2 separate regions of the Homo sapiens genome follow, and region 2 is linked to region 1. The links come from fine-mapping of genetic effects on gene expression. A gene starts in region 1. The other region holds a variant in brackets. All regions are shown on one strand. Distances are between the middles of the regions. Region 1 holds the start of SMIM30 (small integral membrane protein 30). Region 2 overlaps LOC107986837.

Region 1 (4,401 bases):
TGGTACTCCAGAAATTAATCCTTGCAACTACATCAGCTATTACTGGAACCCCGCCCCCGAGATCGACATTTCCCAATATAATATATATTTCACAAACTAATAAAAACCATCATAATTTAAAGAGAAAGTTTCTTGCCACTTACAGACTCTTTAAACTTAAAACCAAACCATTATCTTTAATGTTGACGTGCCTAGAAACAAGTCTGTAACAATACTAACTTTAAAGTAGTCTCTGCTGACTTCAGCTAACTAAAATAAACACATAAGGAAAAATAAACATGTAGGGAAAAACAAAATGTTCACAGTAGGATATGAGAGAATATTTTGGAAGCTATAAAAATATAACTCCTATTCCAAATATAATTGATTACAAAGGCACGAAAGTAGCTCAAAACAAAGGATGAAATGAACAAAACCTTGTTAAAATAATCAAGGTTAGAGAAACAATGCTGACGTTATTGTGCAGTTATTCTCAGATTTCCAATTTTCTAGTCACCTTGGTTTGGTTTATTTGGCACCTCTCGGTCTCTCATAAGATCTTGTTGGCATATTTATCTAGTCAAATCATTATTATTATTAGGCAACATTACTGAGCACCTGCTGGGTGCCGGTTAGGAGCCAAGAATATAAATCTTTGCTAGAGAGACTAGGAACGTGTAAGAAAAAGGGTAACCGACAACACAAGAATACATGCTAATTATTGGCATTGAACTGAACGTACCTGCATTATCTAACAGACTGAACCAGGGGACTTTCAGACCAGGCAGGTGGCTTCACACCCAACCCTCATCATTAATAATTTATAATGTAAGGATAGCAAATAAATTTTCAAATCAGTAAATATGAAAGAGTTCAGAAGATCAGATGACTAGAAAGGTTCAGTAAGGAGTTCACAATTAGCAGACAATTGAAAGAGCGCCTTTCAGAAAGGTTACGACTTACATATACAAATAACTAATTCTTGTTTTATGATTTAAAAGCAGTATTTTTACATCTTTTCACAAATATGTAGGGACATTTGGGGCTGAGGTTTCACAAAAACATAGGTGGGAAGGAATCACCGCAGTGCACTCCTGAATAGATTGTCACTTTAGGACCTGAATCCTGAGAGATCTTCTGCAACAGGGCTAAACCCATTTTTCCTAAACTTTATTTTGCACTACAAATGTTTTTTAACCTTTTACGATATGTCTTATTAACCGCGCTTTTTCCCCATTGACTAAAAAATTAATAAATGGCATATGTTTCATTAGGAAGATGGTGACAGAGATTTCCTGCTTCAGAAACGTTGGAAGCCACTGGTTTAAAAGCACCCGGAACAGAGGGCTGTACTTGGGTTCTCTCTCCCCGCTGTGTCATTTCAGTCGAAGAAAAAGACAAAATTACATGTGCGCCTTACAGACTCAACAGGGTAGAAAACACTTGCTATCATTTCTTTTATTTTGAAGTGAGCTTTTATATAAACACACGAAACCATCTATTTAATAGTAAAACGTTGGGCAGGGAAAGGAAGTCCCGCGCGTTCGCGACTCTTCGCCTCCGCTAGAGCGTGACCGTCACGCCCTCTGCTACTTATAGGGGGAACGCGCCGGGGCATCATAGGAGTCGGCGGCGGCAGGGATTGTGGGAAATGTAGTTTGGAGACTCCGCCCTCCTCGCCATTCCTGTAATGGCTGCTTCCTAGAAGGTAATGTACGAACTCGTCTCCAAAGGATACTTAGGTTGCACCAGTGTATTTGTAAAACAGGAGCAAATTTGGACCTTGCCGGGCCAAAGTACGAATTCTTTTTCAAATCTTAATATCAAGTCCTGAAATGAAATTATCTCTGTTCTGTTTCTTTTTACCTTTTCTTGTGTGGGTGAACTGACCAACTTTTAAGTCTAGTTCCCTGTTGGACAGACTTTTCTCAACTCATTACCTATCCCCCTACCGTCCATATGGCCTCCACGCTCTGCACTGACTCTAGCTGCCTCTTTAAAATAATAATAGTAATAATAATTAATTTTTAAATCCTTCTCTCCGCCCCCTCCCCACCCCCCATGCTAATAATAGGTCGTGTCACGTGGAACCTCTTAATCTCAGCATCCGGAGCTCCAGGAAGGGAAAATTTCAAGTCAGATAGAATTCTATATATACCATTTCTTTGGTAAGTCTTATTAATTCCCCACAACTTCGCAGAGTTATATGTTGTGTGACTTTTGCCAAATTTGTCTGCATTTCTTGGATGGGAGAGACCCTAAGAAAATGTACAATTTTTACCCACTAGGATATTTTAAGTTTCCAAGTTAGTGGCTCGTGCTTTTTTTCTGTTTGTTCTTAATTATGAACTCCTGTTCAATTTTTGTTTGGTTGATGCACGAGGTGTTGGCATTATCGTGGAAAATTCCTGGGTTTAGAGTGTTATCACGAGATAGGGAGATGAACCTCAAATTACTGTCTTTAACGTCCCTCTGTTTTTCCACCTATAAGATGAGGAGATGGATTGGAAATGATTCATAAAGTATCCAAAAGATTGGCTGGCCTGTTATTTGTCATGTGTTCATTTTGTCATTTGAAAAGGGAGGAATTTTTAATGGTTCCTTTTTGTTTCCATGTTTAATTTCTAGGAACCTTCAGCCCTCAAGATTCCAACATCATGACCTCAGTTTCAACACAGTTGTCCTTAGTCCTCATGTCACTGCTTTTGGTGCTGCCTGTTGTGGAAGCAGTAGAAGCCGGTGATGCAATCGCCCTTTTGTTAGGTGTGGTTCTCAGCATTACAGGCATTTGTGCCTGCTTGGGGGTATATGCACGAAAAAGAAATGGACAGATGTGACTTTGAAAGGCCTACTGAGTCAAACCTCACCCTGAAAACCTTTGCGCTTTAGAGGCTAAACCTGAGATTTGGTGTGTGAAAGGTTCCAAGAATCAGTAAATAAGGGAGTTTCACATTTTTCATTGTTTCCATGAAATGGCAACAAACATACATTTATAAATTGAAAAAAAAATGTTTTCTTTACAACAAATAATGCACAGAAAAATGCAGCCTATAATTTGCTAGTTAGGTAGTCAAAGAAGTAAGATGGCTGAAATTTACATAAGTAATATTTCATAATCTTAGAATTCTCTCAAAGCATGTGAAATAGGAAGAAGGAAGTTCTTGCCCAGAATCTTAGGAAATCACCACTGTTCGGTTATAATCACTGCCTCCTGAATCGTTGAGGAGTCTTTTAAATTAGATTTTTGTTTTGTTGTCTCCCAAGTTAATATTATATTTAGATATCAGAGAGTCAGGCAAAAAGGAAAACTTTTATCTCTAGGGAAAAAACATTTAGAAAAATGTATTCAGTGTATCTAATACTGAAATGCGGAAAAAAATTTAATGTTAAAAAAAAACTATAGACATTGACATGGAAAAGAGATTTAATGTTTTGAAAAAAAACTTTATATTAACTGAGTAACATCCTCCTGATGAGAAGTACTATATTAAATATAAACCCATTATGTTATAAGTTAATGTTTCGTGTCCATTTCTTATTTGGGGCTGTTTGTATCCATTGTGGATTTTTATATGAGCTAAGTGGAGAAGGGCAGGATGCCTTGTGTTAACTGATTGCGGTAGCTTGAAGAGACATAATGAGAACTGGGCAGCATTAAGGTCAGAGAAGCCCCTGATAGAAAATCTAGAAATATAGAAGGAAAATGAAATGGCTTAAACTGATTTGTACGCCAGCCAAACGAAATATCCTCTCTGGCCTAGCTACTTAAAGTGTCTTCAAGCCAGCAACATCACCTGGGGCTTGTTAGAAATGCAGAATCTCAGGCCCCACCCAGACCAATTGGATCAGGAACAGCATTCGTTTCCAAAGCCCAAGTTAATTTGTATGCACATTACAAATTTAAGAAGACTGCCAACTTGCTTGAGCCCAAGAATCATTCCAGGCACTTGATAAGACTTTTTGATTCCCTGGTCTTTCTCCTGGTTGTATAGCTGTGAGATGGGGCCTGGAACTCCATGTCTAACAAGGGTCCTCAGTGATTCATTTGATTCTCAAGTTGTAGCCAGCATAAAGTAGTCTAAGGAAATCAAACTTTAGGGTCACACTGGAGGTAAGTAGTGAAATTTTTTCCTAAAATGCATTTTCCAATCTGTAGCTCTCCAGATGACATTGGGAGCCTCATTTTTTATCCAAAAACAGGCACTAGCAACCTAAAGTCCTGTTTATGGTGTAATTCTAGAGTGAGCTGACTTGGCTTGCATGAAAGTTTTGGTTAAAGTGTACAAGGAGTGAAGAAGCATCACAGAATAAAGACATGGAAACTGAATGCACTTGTTTTTGTCACAGCTGTTTCGATTTTTTGCTAGAGGAAGCACTAACAGTCTTTATTCAAATTAATTGGCAGTTAAACATTTCATAATT
Region 2 (4,401 bases), 29 kb before region 1:
AATTTTCTCATTTTCATTTCTTCCCAACTGACTCTGCTTTACTCCTCTCCTCTACAGACACATTAAAAAATATTTTTAAATTGTTGTGGGTATATAGTAGGTGTATATATTTATAAGGTATGTAAGATATTTTGATACAGGCATACAAGGGGTAATAATCACATCAGGGTAAATGCAGTATTCATCCCCTCAAGCATTTATCCTCTTTGTGTTAAAAAAAAAATCCAATTATACTCTTAAAATAACTACAACCACATATTTTAGAAGAGCTGTAGACATCCCCACAGGTATTTCTTCAACTCCCATTCATGCCTCAACTCACTGGGTCTGTTTCTACCTTCACCACTTTCATTAAAGTCATCAATAACCCCTTCCTTGTTAAATCCCATGTGTGCATTTTTGTTCTGTTGCTTAATCCTTGACAGGTTTGTCCACTCTCTCCTACTCCTGAAAATGATATCTTCACTTGGCTTCTGTAGTACTACTTTTTTTTACTTTCTTCTTAACTCCCAAGGGGCTCTGTTTCCACTCACTTTGAATGAAACTCATTCTCTACCTGTTCTTTAAATGTTGATGTTCTCAGGCTCATACTGTGGTCTCCCTTTTTTCACACCCTACCTTATTTTCACCCAACATGGGTGATCTCAACCATCCCTATAACTTCAGTTATCATCTACATGCTGATTACTCCCAAACCAGACTGCAAAGAGCTGACACAATTTCAGCCATCCTGCCTAGGACACTACTCTTTCAGTCTCTGCCTGTGCCCATGGAGTATTGGCACCTAATTTCTAGATATACCAGGCTTCATTTATGAGAAAACAGTCCTCTTTGAAGCTAAAATTGACAAGAAAAAATAAAATATACTATTTTGTCAGCACTTACCTAAATTGTATTAAGTAAACACTAATCTGCATGTTTATTTGTTTAATATCTCTCTTCCTTTGAGCTATGAGGAATGCGGTGGAGATTTTGTCTTATTTACCACTGTATCTCTAGAGTCTGACACAATGGGTTCTCAATAAATAACAGTTAAACATTGATGCAATTTCACTTGGCACCTCTCACCTGAAAGGATTCTCAAGCATCCTTTCTGAGGGGATGTGGTATACCTGATTATATGTAGGTGCATAGGAGTGCAGGACCTACCAAAAGACCTGTCTTGTTAAACAAGACCACATGTTGCTGTTCAACTCAGAGTAAATACAAGCCATGATTATTAATCTGAGTAGACGGGGTTGTGCTACATTAACAAGCAAACCTAAAATCTCAGTGCCTCAAAAATATCAGGTTTATTTTTTGCTCATGCTACATTTCTACTGATGTTCCCTACCAACAGAAGCTGTATGAGAAGTTTTTTGGACCGAATTGTGTCCTCCAAAAGTTATATGTTGAAGCCCTAACTCCCAATGAAACTGTATTTAGAGATGAAGCCTTTAAAGAGGTAATTAAGGATAAATAAGGTCATCAGGTAGGGCCCTAATCCAAGAGGACTGGTTTCCTTAAAAGAAAAGGAAGGGACACAGGGATGCTGGCACACAGAGAAAAGGCTGTGTGAGGACATAGCAAGAAGGCAGCCATCTGCAGACCAAGGAGAGAAGCCTCACTAGAAACCAAACCTGCAGGTACCTTGAACTTGGATGACATCCAGCCTCCAGAACTGTGAGAAAATAAATTTTTCTTGATTGAGCCACCCAGTCACAATATTTTGTTATGGCAGTCCTGGTAAACTAATATAAGAAGTAAAAATGAAGTCACTGATGCCAATAATCCTATTCATCTGGGACGCTGAGCCTGTCCTGTGAAATTTCAAGGACCAGTCAGAGGATTGGTCCAATTTTCATCCACTGCCAATTGGCAAGAATGTGCTGAAGGGCATGGCACATGATCTCACTCTCCAATGAGACTCAAAGTCATTCCAAACAGTCATTCTTTCTATTAAGACAACTCTTCTTCGTAGAGTATTGAACTCTACCTGAGTGGGCAATTCACTAGAAGGCAATTCACCCAGCAGCAGGACACAGCAGATCTTTAGGAAGAAGGTAGCCCTGGTGGATCCAGATAGTCCTCTCCTTAAAAAGAGTTCTGAAATACTGCATTTCCTCAGTAATACAAGTCACAGATGCATTTGGTCTTTGACAGCAGCCCATTTCATCCCTCTCCTAGTCTATCTTCTCCTTACTGGGCTTCCCCATGCTTCCTCCAACTCTATAGGCTTTGCAC[G/A]TAGACACACTCCTGGAATGTAAACTGAGGAAATGTTCTTATCTGTCTCACTGACCTCTTCCAGCTCTGGATAAATGAGTTATTTTTTAATACCAGACTTAGCAAATCACAACTCTGATTCAGGATGCAAAAAAAAAATGAATTCTGTCATTTAAAAACCAGTAAGTTATCAAAAGTCCCATATATTCTATCACTGTATTCATAAAAAAATATGACAACTTTGCATGTGTTTATACGTTACACAAGTCAGAAATATGATTTTAATTATGCCACAAAACAAAACAACACTGTTGATACAAGGTCTTTAATAAGGTTGGTTACATTGAACAACAAGAAACAAATGCTCTAACAGATTATTTTTAAACCATGTGGTATAATGGCAATGAGTTTATTATCATTTCTAATGACAAAATTAAATATGCAATTATGATTCCCATCCCTCAGTTAGATAGAAAAGGAGTCCCAATCTAAATTCTATGTGATGCCCAGAAATAAAGAATCTGAACAACCGCAGTTATCATGATGACTCTTTGGAGTTAGCTCCCATCTGTCTCTGACGAAGTCTCCAGTTAACCCAGAAGGCGTTATTGCCCTGAGACAGGCTCAGGAAACTCCTAAACCAAAGAAGCTACAGTTTTTGATTGAACAGAAACTCTGAGAATGGATTACCTGGGGAAGTGCCAAGCTGCCCTGAAAAAATACAAAATTTATCATCAAGCTATTGTTGGAACATCTCTACCCTTTGGGAAATCATCCTAAAATTGCTTCCAATCCCAGTGGCTGCTGTCTATCTCAGGCCTTCTACTTCCTAATTGCATTCCCATTTTGATCCCTTATGACTAGATCATTGAGTATCCCTATCTCCATCCTATTTCTTAGCCCTTTTCTGAACTTTCTGTTCCCAAGAGGTTGTCCCATGTGTCTTCTTGGTTCAGGTATTGTCTGACCACTCACAGTGAATTGACTTCTCTCCACAGTCTGCTGCTGCCATCTTTCCACAGCCTCCTCGCCACAGTGTCTTAGGAAGCAGTCATTCATCTTCATGGACCATCCCCACCTCATCTCTTCTGTGTAGCAGCAGAAACAAAAAGAAAGAGGATGTTTTGCTATGATTGAGTTTAGTTTGGTTCTTTGGGGTTCTATCCTTGGCCCTCTGCTCAATGAAGGAGTAGTTTCAGATATTTTCCCCTCATCCCAGACAGAACAACAGTTTCTGATTCACTTCATCCTCCCACTGTCTCCGCCACAACCACACAATACCTTTCAACAGTGCCTTCTGCCAAAAAGCTTGGCCACTTCTGCCCTGAGTCCTACAGGTAAAATTAGCATAAGATTCATGTTTTCTTTTGAACTTTGCTTGACTTATTTTTCTAAAGGTTTTCTAAACTCTCTTGCACTTAAACCCATGTTGTAATGCTGTTAAGTCATTAAAGCAAAGTAAAACAAAGAAAACAGCTTCAGGGTACTGCTTTTTAAAATCTTAAAGGATGAAGTCAAAACAAGAATTTCCAGAGTGGCTCTTTGGTGAGGAGGATCTGATGTCTCAAAACATATATACAGTCACTCCCTACCTCACAGAGAGGCATCCCATAATAGCTCTTCCTTGCTGTGTCTTTCCCAGCAGTTGCCTCCCCTGCAATGCTGCCTGCTGCCTTGCTTCTGTTTGACCTTTGGGGAGGTCTCTGCCCTTTTTCTCAGATGCACCTACTTCAGGTTGCCATCTCACAATGACTGAGGTATTTGCTGTCACTCATTCACCCCATGCATCCAGGAAAGTGATTACAATGCAGTTCTCTCTTTGAATAAATAATGTAGATCTGCTGATTTCTGAATTTACTCTGTGTGGAGGTCAGTTCCAGAAACACTCGTTGCTCTCTCTCCAAAGCTTCTTTTCTCAGATATGTGTAAATGATTACTGTTTATTATCTCTCTTAGTGAAGGAAAGAAAGAAAATAATGAAGAAACACATGTATTGATCACAGATCTGAAGCCAAGCAGTGTGTTACGTGTTTGCACATGCATTTTTATTTTTGCAACAGCTGAGTCTCTGATTTGAACACAGTATGATTCCAAAATCCAGATTCTTCCCAATACATCCCACTGCCATGCGCCACACAGAGCAGATGTCCTTTTAAGAAATATGGGAAGAATAAATATGGGATGAGTGGCTGTTGTGCT

The links. PIP is the estimated chance that this variant, and not a neighbour inherited with it, causes the effect. A credible set is the group of variants that fine-mapping cannot tell apart.
Region 2: its variant is the best candidate, but not a certain one, in a credible set for the expression of SMIM30 in sigmoid colon (GTEx, PIP 0.62).

What each region holds. Positions count from the first base shown.
Region 1 is chr7:113,115,814-113,120,214 of GRCh38, reverse strand. SMIM30 (small integral membrane protein 30) reads left to right here and starts at 1,661. Exons shown (of 3, transcript NM_001352688.2): 1 at 1,661-1,687; 2 at 2,054-2,147; 3 at 2,608-3,497. The coding sequence starts at 2,637. The coding sequence ends at 2,816. All of the region lies in intron 2 of LOC107986837, which reads right to left. RefSeq lists enhancers at 1,262-1,401, 1,296-1,890.
Region 2 is chr7:113,144,552-113,148,952 of GRCh38, reverse strand. It overlaps LOC107986837, which reads right to left. Exons shown (of 4, transcript XM_047421162.1): 3 at 3,178-3,290; 4 at 2,512-2,913. The coding sequence ends at 2,827. Among named protein-coding and RNA genes, the nearest start is that of SMIM30, 28 kb to the right of the region's middle. The variant G/A (reference allele first, on the strand shown) is at 2,224.